Linked DNA regions of Homo sapiens: region 1 is linked to region 2. The links come from fine-mapping of genetic effects on gene expression. A gene starts in region 2. The other region holds a variant in brackets. All regions are shown on one strand. Distances are from middle to middle.

Region 1 (8,684 bases), 290 kb after region 2:
TGTGGCAACCTTGCCTTGAGAAAGCCTATTGGTGCCATTTTTCCAACAACATGTGCTCACACACAAATGATAAGAAAGTGAAACAGTCTTATTGCTGTTTAGTGGTCTGGATAGAAGATCAAACCAGCCACAATATTCCCTTTAAGCCAAAACCTAATCCAGAGCAAAATCCTAACTCTATTTAATTCTATAAAAGCTGAGAGAGGTGAGGAAGTTGCAGAAGAAAAGCTGAAAGCTAGCAGAGGCTGGTTCATGAGGTTTAAGGAAAGAAGCCATTTCTAGAACATAAAAGTGCAATGTGAAGCAGGAAGTGCTAATGTGGAAGCTACAGCAAGTTATCCAGAAGATCTAACTACAATCATTGATGAAGGTAACTAAACTGAATAACAGACTTTTAGTGAAAATGAAACAGCCTTCTGTTGGAAAAAAAAAATGCCATGTAGGGCTTTCATAGCTAGAGAGGAGAAGTCAAGGCCTGGCTTCAAAGTTTCAAAGGGCAGGCCAGGGGTGGTAGCACATTCCTGTAATCCTAACATTTTGCGAGGCTGAGGCAGGTGGACCACTTGAGGTCAGGAGCTTGAGACAAGCCTGGCCAACATGGTGAAACCCCATCTCTACTAAAAATACAAAAAATTAGCCGGGCATGGTGGCATGCACCTGTAATCCCAGCTACTCAGGGAGGCTGAGGCAGGAGAATCACTTGAACCTGGGAGGCAGAGATTGCAGTGAGATGAGATCACGACACTGCACTCCAGCCTGAGCAAGAGTGAGACTCCATCTAAAAAAAAAAAAAAAAAAAAAAAGCTTCTCTTCAAAGGGCAGGCCGTCTCTTTTATAAAGGGCTAACGTAGCTGGTGACTTTAAGTTGAAGCTTGTGCTCATTTACCATTTTGAAAATCCTAAGGCCCTTAAGAATTATGCAAAATCCAGTCTTCCTGTGCTCTATAAATGGAACAACAAAGCCAGGATGAGAGCACATCTGTTTACTGCATGGTTTACTGAATATTTTAAGCCCACTGTTCAGACCTACTGCTCAGAAAAAAAGCTTTCAAAATACTACTGCTCATTTGTAATGGACCTAGTCATCCAAGAGCTCTGATAGAGATGTAGAGGAGATGAATGTTCTCATGCCTGCTAACACAGTATCCATTCTGCCACCCATAGATCAAGGAGTAATTTTGACTTTCAAGTCATACTATTTAAGAAAAATATTTCATAAGGCGATAGCTGCCACAGTGATTCCTCTGATGGATGTGGGCAAAGAAAATTGAAACCCTTCTGGAAAGGAATTGCCATTCTAGATTCCATTAAAAACATTCATGATTCATGGGAGGGGGTCAAAATATTAATATAGAAGTTTGGAAGAAGTTGATTCCCAACCTCATGGATGACTTTGAGAGGTTCAAGACTTTCATGGAGGAAATAACTGCAGATGTGATGAAAACAGCAAGAAAGCTAGAATTAGAAGTAGAGCCTGAAGATGCAGCTGAATTGCTGCAATCTCCTGATAAAACTTTAAGGATGGGATGAGTAGTTGCTTCTTATGAATGGGCAAGGAAAGTGGTTTCTTGAGGTGGAATCTACTCCTCATGAAGATGCTGCAAACACTGTTGAAATGACAACAAAGGATTTAGAATATTCCGTAACCTTAGTTCATAAAGCAGTGGCAGGATTTGAGAGGACTGATGGCAGTTTTGAAGGGGAGTAAAATGCTGTCAAACAACATTGCACCCTACAGAGAAATCTTTCGTAAAAGGAAGAGTCAATGGATGTGGCAAATTTCATTACTGTCTTATTTTAAGAAATTGCCACAGCCACCCCACCTTCAGCAACACCACCCTGATCAATCAGCAGCCATCAACATTGAAGCAAGCCGCACTACCAGCAAAAAGATTATGACTTGCTGAAGGCTGTAATGATTGTTACCATTTTTTTTTTTTAGCAATAAAGTGTTTTTATTTATGGTTTGAACTTTTTTAAGACATAATGCTATTGCATACTTTATAGACTACAATATAGTATAAACATAACTGTTATATGCACTGGGAAGCCAAAAAATTTGTGTGACCTGCTGTATTGTGATATTTGCTTTATTGTGGTGTTCTGGAATCAAACTTGCAATATCTCCAAGGTATGCCTCTATAAATATATAGGCAAAATAAATAAAGCTCTTTGTTCTCAAAAAACAATAGTGTAGGAAGAAAGGAGTTAAATCATTACCGTAATGCATGATAATGGGCTAATCAGCCATTTAGAAAGGGTGGAACCATCTCTGTCTAGAGGTGTCAGGAAGACTTCAAAGAGAAGAAAGAGCAAAAACTTTCAAAGGAAACCAAAGCAGGGAGGGGTAAATCCGGGAAGAAGAAACCACACAGGTGAGGACACAGGGGTATGAGAAGGTGAAGCTAGGAAGATGGGCAGTTTTGATCATGAGGATTTTTTATGCCAGGCTGAGGAATGATTCTTTCTATGGGTCTTGGGTGTTCTTGGTCAGATTTGCAATTATAAACAAATCAAATTTTTTAAAGTCTGTAGAGAAGAGGTTAGAGCTGGGTAGGAGTGCTAGGTGGGGTATTTTTCTTAATAGACTTTATTTTTTAAGAGTAATTTTAGGTTCACAGCAAAACTCAGAGGGAGGTACAGAGATTCCCCATCTACCCTCCTTCCCAACCACACGTATAGCCTCCCCAATTATCAGTATCTGGGTGGGGGATTTTCAGCATGGCAGTGACCAGGTCAGGTTTGCTCTGGGTCAGAGTAGGAGTTGCAGTGGGGAAGGTGGGGGAGTGAGGGGAGGTGGTGGTGGTAGTGCCTCTCAGAAGCTGAGGGGAGATGGGTGGAGTTGCAGGGAGTCGGTTCAGAGGCTCTTTTTGTTAGTCAGAGGAGTGTTCCTGAGTGCCTGGGCTGAGGCACAGCTGTGAAAACGGGGAACAGGGATGCATTTGAGAGATATTTAGGAAGAAAACCCACAGAGTTCAATTACTGATCAGGCATGAGGAGTGAAGGAAAAAGAAATGGTGTGCCTACTTCCCTGGTTTCTGAGCTGGGAGACCAGGTGGCTGGTAAAGGCTGCTGCCTTTTTTCTGCAATTAATACATTTAGGTTATAAACAGTTCAATAATACAGAAGCAGATGAAATAATAAGCGAAAGTTCCCTTCTGGTTTTTCTCCTTCACATTCAACGCCATTCCCCAAGGCATAGCCACTATTAATATTTTGGCATATTCCTCCAAGTGTCTTTCCATGCCTATACTGAACTCAATTAGTTTCTCAAACTCAAAGAGTAATTCTACTGCAAAGACATCCGGCCAAATCTTTGAAATTCCTAAAGAAGATGTTTGCACTTGACCATGTGTATCACAATGTTGGGCAAAGCCTTGGGCAAGAGGATAGTTTCAGCAATGAGGCTTCTTCCAGGAACCACACCTCTGAGAGTTCATTGTGGGCTACATCATAGATTCAGCCCTGTTCAGTACAGTTATTTGTAGGACCAAAAAAATGCTACATGGTGCCCAAGTGTAACACACCAGTAATTAAATTGATAAATCTTCTTTATTACCAATTCTTCTATAATATAGGTACATTCATGCCCCCAAGATAATCATAAAATATATTTTCTTTGGTATTCAATGCCCTGGAAATGCCAACAGAATTGTGTCTGTATGTACATCAGCTTTTAGTTGGAAAATTAGCTATGGAAAATTTACTCTCTCCTCTGACCTGGAAAATATTACTCCTACAAATTAAAGATAAGGCAAATGTCATAAGGATGTGAGGAGATAACTTTGATGAGATAAGAAACTGCAGTTGAATGAGATCCTACATGCATACTCACAATACATTAAAGCCGCTCAAATTTTCAAAGAAAAAATGTCTGCCTTTTTTCTGGAGCTAAAATTAATCATATTGCATACACTAAATTGTGAGTATTCCTACAGGGAATTCATTGGTTGGAAGTTACTACCAAGGACTAAAATGGAATAAAATAGCCCCACTTAAGAACTATAAATCTTTCTAAAGTTAAGTATTTCAGAGAGAACCTGTGTGAAAAGATATATTAGAATGGTAACTAAGCATACTAGGATATTGAGCAAGAAATTGTCAAAAATTTAAGTCTTATGTTTAATGTTTTAAAATTTGGTATAAAAATAGGAACCAATATGTAGCAAGTGTTAATTCTTGGTCCAGCAGTTTTCTTAAAACATCCTTGATATTTTAACTGTTTCTGGTGAGGCATCTCCCCAGTTCAGAAAGTAATTATAATTTAAATAAAAATTATTATAATAAAGAATAGCTAACATTTATTAAGCATTTATTATATGCTAAGCACTATTTCAAGGTATTTATATTATTCCATTTCATCCTCACAGCACATTATTATCACTCATTTTAAACATATGACTACTCCTGACTTTTAGAATTATTGGAGACTAAAGATCTGCTTATTTAGGGTGTTGTTTGGAGGTGACAAAAGATTCAGTGGTTTCAAAAACTTTTGTGCAAGGAGGGCATTCTGGGAAGATGACAAAGTAGGAAGCAACAGGAATTTGTCTGCCCACCTAGAAACAATTTCACTGGCAAAATCTGTCGGATGTAGCTATTGAGGAACTCTGGAGTCTG[T/C]TGAAAATTTGCAATGTCTAGGGAAGGCTTAGTAAATTGTGGTTAACTGTGGTCAATTTCAGCTCTTACTGCAGTAGCAGCTATCCTTCCTTCACCCCCAGCCCCATGGTATGCAGGTATGTACTTGTTCCCGAAGCAGCTTTTACACAGTTTGTGGGAGCCAGGGGACCCTGACCTCCAAATGCTGGGGATTTGTGCATTTGTGCTCTGCTCACTGATTGCAGCTTCTTCTTCTGTTTTTTGTTTGTTTTGTTTTGTTTTGAATAACCTGTGTGTGGATTTTTTTTTTTTTTTTAAACCAGGTCTTGCTCCATCACCCAGGCTGGAGCACAGTTGTGCGATCATAACTCACTGCAGCCTGGAACCTCTGGGCTCAGGAAATTCTCCCACTTCAGCCTCCCAAGTAGCTAGGACTACAAGCATGTACCAACACACCCAGCTAATTTTTAAAATTCTTTTAGAGACAAGGTCTCACTATGTTGCCTAGGCTGGTCTTGAACTACTGGCCCCAACGGATCCTCCCATCTCAGCTTCCCAAAGTACTCAGATTACAGGCATGAGCCACTGTGCCCAGCCATCACTGATTGCAGCTTCTGATCACAGAGGCGCAGACAAACACATAGTTGGCCATTGTTGCTGCATCTCTCCCACTGTGGCAAGCCCCTCCCTGTCCAGCTGAAGTGACTTCCAAAGGAGTAAATGGCTGGCACCACTCTCCACATCCTTAGTTTTCTCTTTTTTCCCTTTTGGGAGGCAGACATTGAAGACTAGGACATTCAAAAGCAACTGCATATACATTAGCAATTAGAACAAATGTTCATGCCCAGAGAAAGACAGGCTCAGAAAAGACCTGAGAAGACCTTAATTTTACACCTCAGGCTTATCCTTGGCGCAGAAACAACCTACCTAAAACAATTTTTAAAAAAATAAAAAAAAATGAAAATAGTATAACCTGGGAAAGGGAAAGAATATGATTTCCAGAGTTACTGCATTATTAGATTTAAATGTCTGGTTTTTGATAAAAAAAATTATAAGGCATACACAAAGAAACAGGAAAATATAGTCCATTCAAAGGAAGAAATAAATAAACAAAACAGCCCCTGAAAAAGATCTGATGGTCTCTGGGCACAGTGCCTCATGCCTGTAATCCCAGCACTTTGGGAGGTCGAGGCAGGCAGATCACTTGAGGCCAGGAGTTCGAGACCAGCCTGGTCAACATGGTGAAACCCCATCTCTACTAAAAATACAAAACTTAGCCAGGTGTGCTGGTGCACACCTCTAGTCCCAGCTACTTGGGAGGCTGAAACACGAGAATCCCTTGAACCCAGGAGGTGGAGGTTGCAGTGAGCTGAGATCATGCCACTGTACTCCAGCCTGGGTGACAGAGTGAGACTCTGTCTCTAAATAAATAAATAAATAAATAAATAAATAAATAATTCTGATGGTAGATCTAGTTGACAAAAACCCTTAAAATTATTGTCTTAAAGATGCCCAAATAATTAAAGGGAGATATGGAGAAAGTCAAGAAGACAATATTTGAACAAAGTGGAAATAGCCATAAAGAAACAGAAAACCTACAAAGAAACCAATAAGAAATTCTGGAGCTGAAATGTACAATAAGTGAAATAAAAATTCACTAGAAGGATTCAAAGGCAGATTTGAGCAGGTTAAAGAAAGAGTCTATGAACCTGAACATAGAACAATGGAAATGATCATGTCTGAGAAACAGAAAGAAAAAAGATTAACAAAAAGTGAGCAGAGCCTAAGGGGCCTGTTGAACACCACCAATATACATACTGTGAGAAAAGGAGAAGAGGGTAGAGGAAACAGTTAAAGAAATAATGGTGGAAACTTTACAAATATGATGAAGAATATAAACATAAATGCCAAGGAGTTCAAATAACTCCAAGTAAAATAAACTCAAAGAGACTCACACAGAGACAGATTATATATAATCAAACTTTCAAAAGACAAAGAGGGACTCATGAAAGCAGAAAGAGAGAAATAATTCATCATATGCAAGAAATCTTCAATAAGATTATCAGCAGATTTCTCATCAGAAGCTTTGGAGGCTAAAAGGCTGATATATCCAAAGTTCGAAAAGAAAAGAAAAAAAACTGTCAACCAAGATTCCTATATCTGGCAAAACTGTCCTTCAAAGTGAAGGAGAAATTAAGATATTCCCAGATAAAACAAAAGATGAGGGAGTTTGTCATCACTAGCCCTGCCCTGTAAGACATGTTCAAGGGAGTAAGGCACGGTAAAATAAAAGGACACTAGACAGTAACTCACAATCTTATAAATAAATAAGAATCTCAATAAAGGTACACACGCATGCAATTATAAAAGTCAATATTATCATAACAACAGTTTGTAATACTACCTTTTGTTTTCTATATGGTTTAAGAGACTAACACATTGAAAAAAACAATTATTAGTTTAAAAGCTAGGATTTTTGTAACTTTGGTTTGTAACTCCACATTCTATTTTCTATGTAATTTAAGAAACTAATGTATTTAAAATGTTACTAGCATATATTTTGGCATATGCAATAGAAAAAGATGTAATTTTGTGACATCAGCAACTAAAAGAGGTAGGGATGAGGCTGTAAAAAAGTAGATTTTTTCTTTATTATTCAAGTTAAGCTGGTATAAGTTCAAATTAGAGTATTATAACTTTACTGTATTAAGTGTAATTCCTATAGTAACTACAAAGAATATAGTTATAGAATATACACAAAAGAAAATGAGAAAATAAGTTAAACATTTAACTACAAAAAAAACCGATGAAACATAACAGAAGACAATAATGCAGGAAATGAGGGACAAAAATCTTACAAGGTATGTTAAAAACAAATAGTCAAATGACACAACTAAGTTCTTTCTTAGCAGTGATTAATATAAATATAAATAGATTAAACTCTCCAATCAAAAGAAAGATTGGCAGACTAGATAAAAAAACACATAATTAAACTATATGCTGTTTATAAGACACTCACTTTAGATCAAATAGATTGAAAAAGACATGGATTGAAAGTGAACAGATGGAAAAAGATATTTCATGCAAATAGTAACCAAAAGAGAGCAGAAGCAGTGATAGTAATATCAGACAGAATAGGTTTTAAATACAAAAACATTACAGGGGTCAAAGAAGGACATAACATTTTAATAAAAGGTTCAATACAGCAAGGAAAGATAACAATTATAAACCTTTATACATATCTAATAATAAACTATCAAAATATATGAAGCAAAAACTAATCCAACTGAATGGAGAAATAGACAGTTGTACAATAATAGTCAGATACTTCAATATCCCACTCTCAGTAATGGATAGAACAACCAGGCAGAAAACAAGTAAGGAAGTAGAGGACTTAAACAACACAATACACCAACTAGATGAAACAGACATATATAGAACACTTTACCCCCAAATACAAGCATACATATTCTTCTCAAGTGCACATGTGACATTTTCCAGGATAGAATATAGAATAGGCCACAAGTTAAGTCTCAAGTCTCAATAGAATTAAACAGGTAGATGTCATGCAAAGTATCTTCATTGACTACAAGGGATAAAGTTAGAAATCAATAATTTAAAAAAGGTGGAAACTTCAAATATTTGTGGAAATTAAACACAATACTCTTAATCAATAGATCAAAGATGAAATCACAAGGGAAATTAGAAAGTACTTAGAGACAAATGAAAATAAAATACAACATATCAAAACTTATGGGACACATTGAAAAGAGGAAAATTTATAGCTAAAAATTAGTCTCCCCTTATTCATGCAGGGTACATCCCAAGGTCCCCAGTGAATGCCTGAAACCTCAGCTAGTATCCTATACATATGATGTTTTTTCCTATACATATATAGCTATGATAGTTTAATTTGTAAATTAGGCATAGTAAGAGATAAACAGTAATAAAATAGAACAATTAAGCAATATATTGCAATAAAAGTTATGCAAATGTGTCTCTCTCTCAAAATATCTTATTGTACTATACTCACCTATTTTTAGACCACAGTTGATTGTGGGTAATTGAAATTAAAGAAAGTAAAA
Region 2 (8,569 bases):
GAGTCTTGCAAGCAAATGGGAACAACAGGAAGATAATCAGAGATGACACATTTGTGAGACCTCAAGGTGAAAAAGAAAATGCTTTCCTCTGCTTCCTCAGCATCTTTCCAAAAAAAATACTGAAAAGAGAAAATACACATACAAAAGTTTTTGTTTTGTAACAAAGTTCTAAATTCTGATTCTTTGCTAACATCAGTCGAGATTCAGTCCTTCTGATTTTCAAGATTTAAACCCAATCTAATGCTAGCAATACAGAAAATCTGTTTGCACACTTCAACTAATTGGGATTAGACAATCAACCATGACTCAACGTTAGTATCCACACCAAAGTGAGGTTTTGTGAACTGCCTACAATACATGTACAAATTGCACCTATTAATTTTTTTAAAAACTGTTACTTCTTTCAATCTACCAGAAGGGGGTGATATTGTACCAGGCATTTGTTTCTCCATTGTAATTCTCAGATGAAGGCAAGTGCACAATTGCCAATGAAGTCCCATGTCCTGTCATTCATTGCAAGAGGTTTAACAAAAAGGCATTATTTTATAATGTGGTGACTTATCTCACATCTTAATGATGTAATTTCTGCCCCCTTTCTCCACTACTCTAAATCAACAAGCTGGTAGAACTGAATGCTTCACATAGGGAAACATAAAAAGGCATGTCTGCATTCAATGTTTTCCTATCAGATTACAATTTTTTCAAAACACTTTTTCAATTATTTTACTACAAAGCTCAAAAACTTTACAGCACACTAAATTAGGAAGTCCTGAGCGTGACATTTTGGATCCCCGACATTACGCGCTCCTCCACCTTTGCTGGCTTTCCTAACATTAAACCTTGGCTCACATCATTCTTTTAATACAGTACTAAGTTGACTTTCACCCCCATTCTACAAGTAAAAGAGCCATCCAACAAGAAGCATTTTGGATGCTAGTTCCTTCAGAGATCCTATAGAGGACAATTTCCAAATATGCTTCCTTTAAATATCCTTGTACACTGTACTTTCATAAAATGTTTACACCGGGCCTTTACTAAAATCCTCTACATTCTTACGTCAACATCTTTCTCAACAACCAGTGGAATCCTTTCGGCAGCCATGCCCCCCAACACATACAAAACACACACACACAATTATAAATAACTTGCCAGCAAAACAAACAAACAAACAAAAAAAAACAAAAAAAAACTAAATTATATAACCCAGCAAATATCTGCTATGGTTAAAATAAATTCATTGAAAATGTTCATATTTATCTGAAAATCCATCAATAGGTACTGATTAAACAAATTATGGAATACTACAAAGCTACGAAAAAGAATAAGGTCTATACAGGGCTCACATGAACAAGTCTCCAAGAGAGCAAGTGGGGATGAGGCCGGATGCGCTAGTGTCTTACTCACTATGCTCAATAAAGCAACCAGGGAAAGGCAGGGGAAGGGCAGTAACAATGAAGTTGTCTCTGTACTTACTTTAAAGAAAAATGATTTCAAAAGACATATGGTAACAATTATGCATAGGTGAATTCCGGGGTAAGGAGCAAAATAGGACATTTATGGAATCAAAATGTAAGCCAGCCAGCTATTTATGCGCAGTCGATGACGGCCTGGATAGAAACTGACTGGAAACAGTTACAGACATATTTGGGGATTACGTGTGTTAAACTCATTCTATTTGTAGTATGAATACACAAGGGATGTTTATATATAACCAGTCCTATTACTAATAAGGCAGAGTCCTGTCTCTAAATGGTATTGGAGAATGTGTGAGCACGTGGGGTGGGCTAGGGGTGGTTGTCATATCAGGGTTATGTTGAGGGCTCTGAGAAAAAGATTAGTCAGGAGGAAATCACAGTACTTTAATCTTAGGATTCCACCAAAGGAAATGGGAATTCAGAACTATTTAGCATAAATCAAAACACCACAGATAAAAGGAAAATATTGACTATTTTAGATTTTGTTTTTTAAAAGATTCTTGCACACAAGGACCAGGCCCTCTATTATTTTAATTATAATGTCGTTATTGGCTATGTTGTATTATGCCTGGTGTCTAGTGTTGAAAAGAGTCATTACCTACGTTGCTAAAAGTCATAATAAAATATCTTTTTATTTTTTATTTATTTATTTTGAGACAGAGTCTCACTCTGTTGCCCAGGCTGAAGTACAGTGGCGCAATCTCAGCTCACTGCAACTTCCACCTCCCGGGTTCGAGTGATTCTCCTGCCTCAGCCTCCTGAGCAGCTGGGATCACAGGCGAACTCCACCATGCCCAGCTAACTTTTTTTTTTTTTTTTTTTTTTTTTTTGTATTTTTGGTAGAGATAGGGTTTCACCATGTCGGTCAGGCTGGTCTGGAGCTCCTGACCTTGTGACCTGCCTGCCTCGGCCTCCCAAACTGCTGAGATTACATGCGTGAGCCACCGTGCCTAGTTTAAAATATCTAATTTCAAAAACATATGAAGATAGAATAAATATTGTCAGGCTAAAATATTTTTTCAAACATTAATACTTACTTCCAATTCTAATAAAGGAAAATGTGTACAAGCTAAACTGTGATTTAAGCATATCCACAAAATGTACAGCACAACCTAAAGACTACTTCAAAGTCCAGTCCTGCTACTTTCTAGCTTAGACAACTGTTAAATTTTCTGAGGCTCTATTTTCTTACTTGTGAAAAAAAGGAATAGTTACTTCTCCAAGGGTTGCCAGGTGTTTTGGCTGTGAAAAGATCTAGTAGGCACAGAGTACGCTTCAATCGAGTGTACGAGTATGTGCATTTGAGACGATCCAATCTTTCCAGATGAGCTTTCCTTTCAAGTGCCTAGCTGTCTGCCCCCTACCCACCCCTCACCATCCTTGTACTGCTACGTGCCAATAAAACCACAGAACAGAGGTCACAAGCTGACTGCTCACAAGCCCAATACAGTGCACACTCAGGTTTTGTTTTAGCCCACAGGGTATCAGGTCTACACTGGTTTGTAAGGTATTCGATTTAGACACCAACAAATGAAATCAGAGGAGACATATAAAGGCAGTAGCAGTGCACAGGCTCCAGGATCTGCCCAGCTCCAGCAACCTGATGTAACATCTCCATGCCTCAGTTTCCTTGTCTATTAAGAAAAAGGTGGGGAAGAAGTAGTAGACAGACCTACTTTACTCATGGAGCCATTGTGAGTAATCAAGCTAAAACACACAGAGTGTTTAGAACAGTACATGCAAATCAGCGTTTAATGTTCTGAAGACACTGGCCCATCCCAAGATGAGGCCCATGACTCTGGCAAGCTTCCAGACACAACTGTCCCCCTGGGTGGGCCCTTTAGCTTTCCATTTCTCCATACTCCCTCTACTCCCAAGTGTCTTACACAGAGTCCAACCCATTTGTACCACCTGCCACGAGGGGACCACCTGTAGGGCTATCCTTTTGGCCTTGGACTTTGCAACTCCTGGCATTAAGAGGCAAGCAAGCAGCTCCAGTCAAAGAAATTATCATGTTCTCCCCAGTCATACTCAATAACATCTATGTGAAACACCCCACGGGGAAGTCAAGAAGCAACAAATTATCATGTTCTCCCCAGTCATACTCAATAACATCTATGTGAAACACCCCACGGGGAAGTCAAGAAGCACAAAAGGGACCCGGAACAATTAATGGGTGTTTTTGAGACTGTCAGAGTAAACAGCATCTCCTGCAATAAATCAGGGAAGTCTTGAGAGTCGCACCTTAGAGATACGGTTCCTGCCAAATCATCAATTTAATCAGCAAAATGTTTACATCTGGAGGACTCTGCAATGTGCCCTGGTAATAACCAGGCTCTAGCGGCTCCTCCTCACATCCACTTGTCCTTAAGTTTATTTACCTACCAGATCTCACTGCAGCTGAAGCTAACAAGCCTCTCTATGCACATCAGTATTCTTAGCCCCTCAATCAAAGCATCAGTGAGGACTATTGGGGCCCGCTGGGGGTCTGAAGAAGAGTCCCTCTGGCAGGGAGAAATGGCGAACTTCTCTAAACAAGCTCTGTGTCTCACAGGTCTTTGCCAAGGATCAACAGTGACTAGCAAGTCTGTGAGACAGAAAGTAAGAAAATACTCTTCATGAGGGAAATAACTGTTTGGGTATGTGTCAGTCACTACTCCATCTCCAATGTCCAGAACACTGCCTCCTACGTAGCAAGTACATATAAAGCAACTAGAATAGTAACGGGCATGTCATAAGCCAGTTATAATTATTATAACTAAATGTATAGCTATGTTTTTAAGGCAAGCTGAACTTTACTAGTTGTTACCCATAATTTGGCAATGGAACAGCCTAAGTAAATACACTTAAAATGCAGGAACCTTATAAAGTAAGCTTTTCAGCCCCTTGTCTTCTTTCTTTCTGGTTCTGAGTTATACACTTTGAAGAGGACTTTGTAGCCATCTTCTGAAAACTTCCAAATCTAATGGCACTAATAGTCAATGGGAAAGACAGTGGAGCACTGCAGGACATCACCAATTATATTACAGAGCCTGAAAGGAACTAAAAATATGAAGACTTTCAAAATAGTAACACAGCACAAACACCAAAATGTTAACACACGAGGAGTTTATCTGAAGTCCTACTTGTGATCTATTTATCAGTAATGTTCAAATATGGGAAAATTAATGTGGGAAAAATGACAATGCAACACCTCTTATCTAGAATATGTCGACATTGGTGTCAAAATACTTCTTTATTCTGTTAATTCCGCATTTCCAGGTAGCTCCAACTACCCATCTCTGCACGTTATACTGTGAAGCTGCTGACAATTTTCTGAGGGTGCTTCAGAAAGAACCATATCTTACACATCAGTTCTCCACCTCATACCACATGTTGAATTTGACAATGGCAAAGGTTAGAAAAGAAAACAGGTTTTTGCCTGGCTGTGCATCAGATGATGTAGGGATGTGGGGAAAAGTAGGAGGAGAAATAAGAAAGCAGGACTGTTTTTGCATTACTGGAGGAAAGGAACTAGCTCAGAAGTCAGCCTAACACCCACAGAGATTAAAACGTCTCTTCCTTCCTCTTTGTTTCCACGTCCCAGTCTTCAATAAATTCTATCTGACAACAGCAGCAGAGGGACCCACTATCTTGTGGTTTCTGTCAAGTTCCTGATTTTCATCCGTAGTTGAAGATGAGCAAGAACTCTGTAACAGTGTTACCTTGGAGCCTACAATGAGAGGTATTTCAAAATGAGTGAAGCATGACTCTCACAGATGAAGGCCTAGACGCAGGTAAGAAAACAGCTTTTCCATGAAATGACTTGCATGTATGTGAATGGTGCATGGGAACAGAAAAGATTTCTGAGCTGGGCAGCAACAAAGCTGAGGAACACTGAACCATTGCCACTCACATTTTTCTCAGTAGGTTACTTTTTGTTTGACAACTATAATTGGTATATTAATATATTTCCCCATGCTAATATGGGGATCCAATACTGAAATATTATCATTTATGATTTAGGATTTCCAATCGTGGCTGTCAAAATATATCTGTGATGAAGAGATATCAAGGAAAATGTTTAAAAGGTATTCATCCAGGACAAACATTTCAAAAGCTCGTAAATGTGTATTAAAATTGCTTCTCAAAACTACAAAATCGATTAGCATAATACTTAGGTCAGTATGTCTTTGTTTGCAATTGCATATGTGTACAGATATATAGTTGCATTTACTTGTACATACACTTATATAGGTAAAAGTTTTTATCTTTGTCATTATTAGGATAAGTTAACCCCATTAACACCTACTAAAATAAAATGCCTTTAAATTGTAAATCACAGAAATATCTGTCCTAGGCATAGCAAATATTTGAGTTCATATGCTACTTATTTATAGTCTATGACTAATCAGCTAAATTACTTACAATTCTTTAAACATTATAAATTAAATTACATTCAGGAGAATTAGCACAGACCCACAATGTCAGCTTATTCAACCAAGCCCATGCAATCCATCTTGTCTACATATACTTTGTTAACCAAGGACAATCAATCCTACGGAGAAAATGAATCAAAGATCACACTAGTAAAAAAATAAATAGTTTGTATATTCATCTTTCTAAAACATACAAACTTGATAATCAGTTTTAGCACTAAAAAAAAACCTAGCCATTAAGTTAAAAAGAAAACAATGCACTCGGAAAATACCAAAATGGCATATTTTATGATTTGTAAACATGCAATGAATTTTATATTTCGGTAAAATTTATGAATACTATATATACAAACATGCATACAATTGTGTGCACACAATTAACACATTGGTATATATGAATGAACTCTATATTGTCATGTCTGGAAAAAAAAAAAACAAGGAGGCCAGGCATGGTGGCTCACACCTGTAATCCCAGCACTTTGTGAGGCCAAGGTGAGTGGCCTCAGGAGAGGCTGGTCAGGAGTTCAAGACCAGCCTGGCCAACGTGGTAAAACCCCTATCTCCACTAAAAATACAAAAATTAGCTGGGTGGTAGTGGTGCATGCCTGTAATCCCAGGTACTCAGGAGGCTGAGGCAGGAGAATCGCTTGAGTCTGGGAGCCAGAGGTTGTGGTGAGCTGAGATCGGGCCACTGCACTCCAGTCTGGGCGAGAGAGTGAGACCCTGTCTCAAAAACAAAAACAAACAAAAATAAAACCAAAAGAACAGTGGGGAGATTCCAAGGTACTCAAAGCATGAAGACACAGGGGAAGTGGGCCGGGTGCAGAGGAAGAAGTATAATTTCCTGAAGTATTACGGTGCCCACTTCACAGTTGAAGCAGGTACAGAGGGTGTGACTATCCTGAGCAAGGCCACCTATGATGCTTCTAAAGTGCTGAACAGAAGAAGAACACGGCTCCCTAGAAGAACGTTCACTCTATAAAGTGCTTCTGAGTGAATTTAGATGTTGAGGCTTCCCTAAGCCTAAGGCTCTATGAACTCAGAAGTCACAGGTTTATTCCATTTGGCCCCAGGATATCCTTAGAAGTTAGGTCGGTCACAAGTGAGCTGTTTCAACCTCCCAGTGTGAGCAGTCTCTAGAATACCAAAAACAGACCAGTCCAGGAGGTAGGCTGACACCAACACAAGCATATTCTGCCATCATCATGAGCATCCTCACCTGCAGAAGGCTGTCTAGTGGAGGATGATGGACAATAAGGAGTGTTTCCTTTAATTGAAAATTATATCAGTACAAGAGTGCCAAGTTTGTTTGGATAGAGCAGTGGATCTCAAAGTGCAGATACTATACCAGCTGAATCAACATCACCAGTGAGCTTGTCAGACATGCAAATTATTGACCCCAAACCTACAGAATCAGAAACAATGGGGGTGGAGCCCAGCAATCTCTTTTAACAAGCCCTCCAGGTAATTCTGTTGCACATTCAGTTTTGGGTGACCCCATGTCCTGGGACAGATCCAGTTTTCACCTGTTGTCTGGGCATAATTGAAAATAGTGCCTCCTTTCTATCTCAAAAGTGTCCTTGATTGTATAATAAATTAATTATGATCATCAATATGATCACCCTGCCAGTTCATACTGGATGCTAAGAAGGCATTTCATTGGCCAGATGCTGTCTACTACTTGGGATTTCAAATTAGCTTCAAGTCTGGTGCTACACCCATAGCCTCCCCACCATCACCCCGCAATACTAAAAGATGCATTGCCTCCTAAAAGTCTGAGCAGCACAGCTAGATAAATCAACTTCAGTAAAAATATCCTATCTTAATGAGAAAAAATACCTACAACCAAACTATGTAAAATCTATTTTAAATTCTCAGCTTCCTAAGTAGCATGAGAATCAGGTCTCCAAAACCCTCTTTACTAAATTTTCTGGTTCTTCTTTACAGGGAATTTTCTTTTCCTCCCTAGCACCCTTAAAAAGGATAAATCTAGTAATTAATGAATGCTATTTTTATAGTAATCATTTGGTTACATTAATTCACCGAAACACCAAGTTTACCACAGCAAAGCTTCTCAATCCACCTGTTCTTTAAAGTCAAAGTGAAATACTGGTCATATGCTTTTAGATCTGATTAGATTCCTTTGAAATTTTTGTCTTTACTCGGTATAAATTAAATTGCTAGCTTTTTATTTTTCACTGAAACCTCCCATCTGTTGTTTTTGAAAAGCATCAAAGGCCTTAGATATCATGTTCTGACCCCTCATCATTCAAATAAAAGAACAGCCAGGGACGGGTGCTGGCTTCTACCCAATTATATGACATCTGCTTTTGAGGTTAAGATACCAAAGAAAAGAGGAAAAGATCAGTTAGTTGGCTTCTGAGGTTGGCCCAAAGCGATCTGTACACTTGTGGTGTGATCACTTGGGGAAAAAAATCTGATCCTCGATACTCTCCAGGATCATACACACGCAATTATTTTCATCACATCACTTATAGCCTCTAGACTCTAGGAGCCATTTATACCAAGCAGATGGGAAATGTGCCACCTTCTATAGTGGGAGAGACACCTGGCTGGAAAGAACTCACCTGTTGCTGATGTGATCTTCCCAGTGAGTCGAGCCCTAAGGTCAAAGGTTGGTAGGAGAGCTCACACAAGGTTTCATCTAAGAACATT

Evidence for each region. PIP is the estimated chance that this variant, and not a neighbour inherited with it, causes the effect.
Region 1: its variant is fine-mapped to the expression of P2RY14 in whole blood (INTERVAL, PIP above 0.99). The same link has a PIP of 0.9 or more in neutrophils.

What each region holds. Positions count from the first base shown.
Region 1 is chr3:150,985,954-150,994,637 of GRCh38, reverse strand. All of the region lies in intron 1 of CLRN1-AS1 (CLRN1 antisense RNA 1), which reads right to left. Among named protein-coding and RNA genes, the nearest start is that of CLRN1, 18 kb to the right of the region's middle. The variant T/C (reference allele first, on the strand shown) is at 4,621.
Region 2 is chr3:151,274,969-151,283,537 of GRCh38, reverse strand. P2RY14 (purinergic receptor P2Y14) reads left to right here and starts at 4,996. Exons shown (of 3, transcript NM_014879.4): 1 at 4,996-5,251. All of the region lies in intron 16 of MED12L (mediator complex subunit 12L), which reads right to left.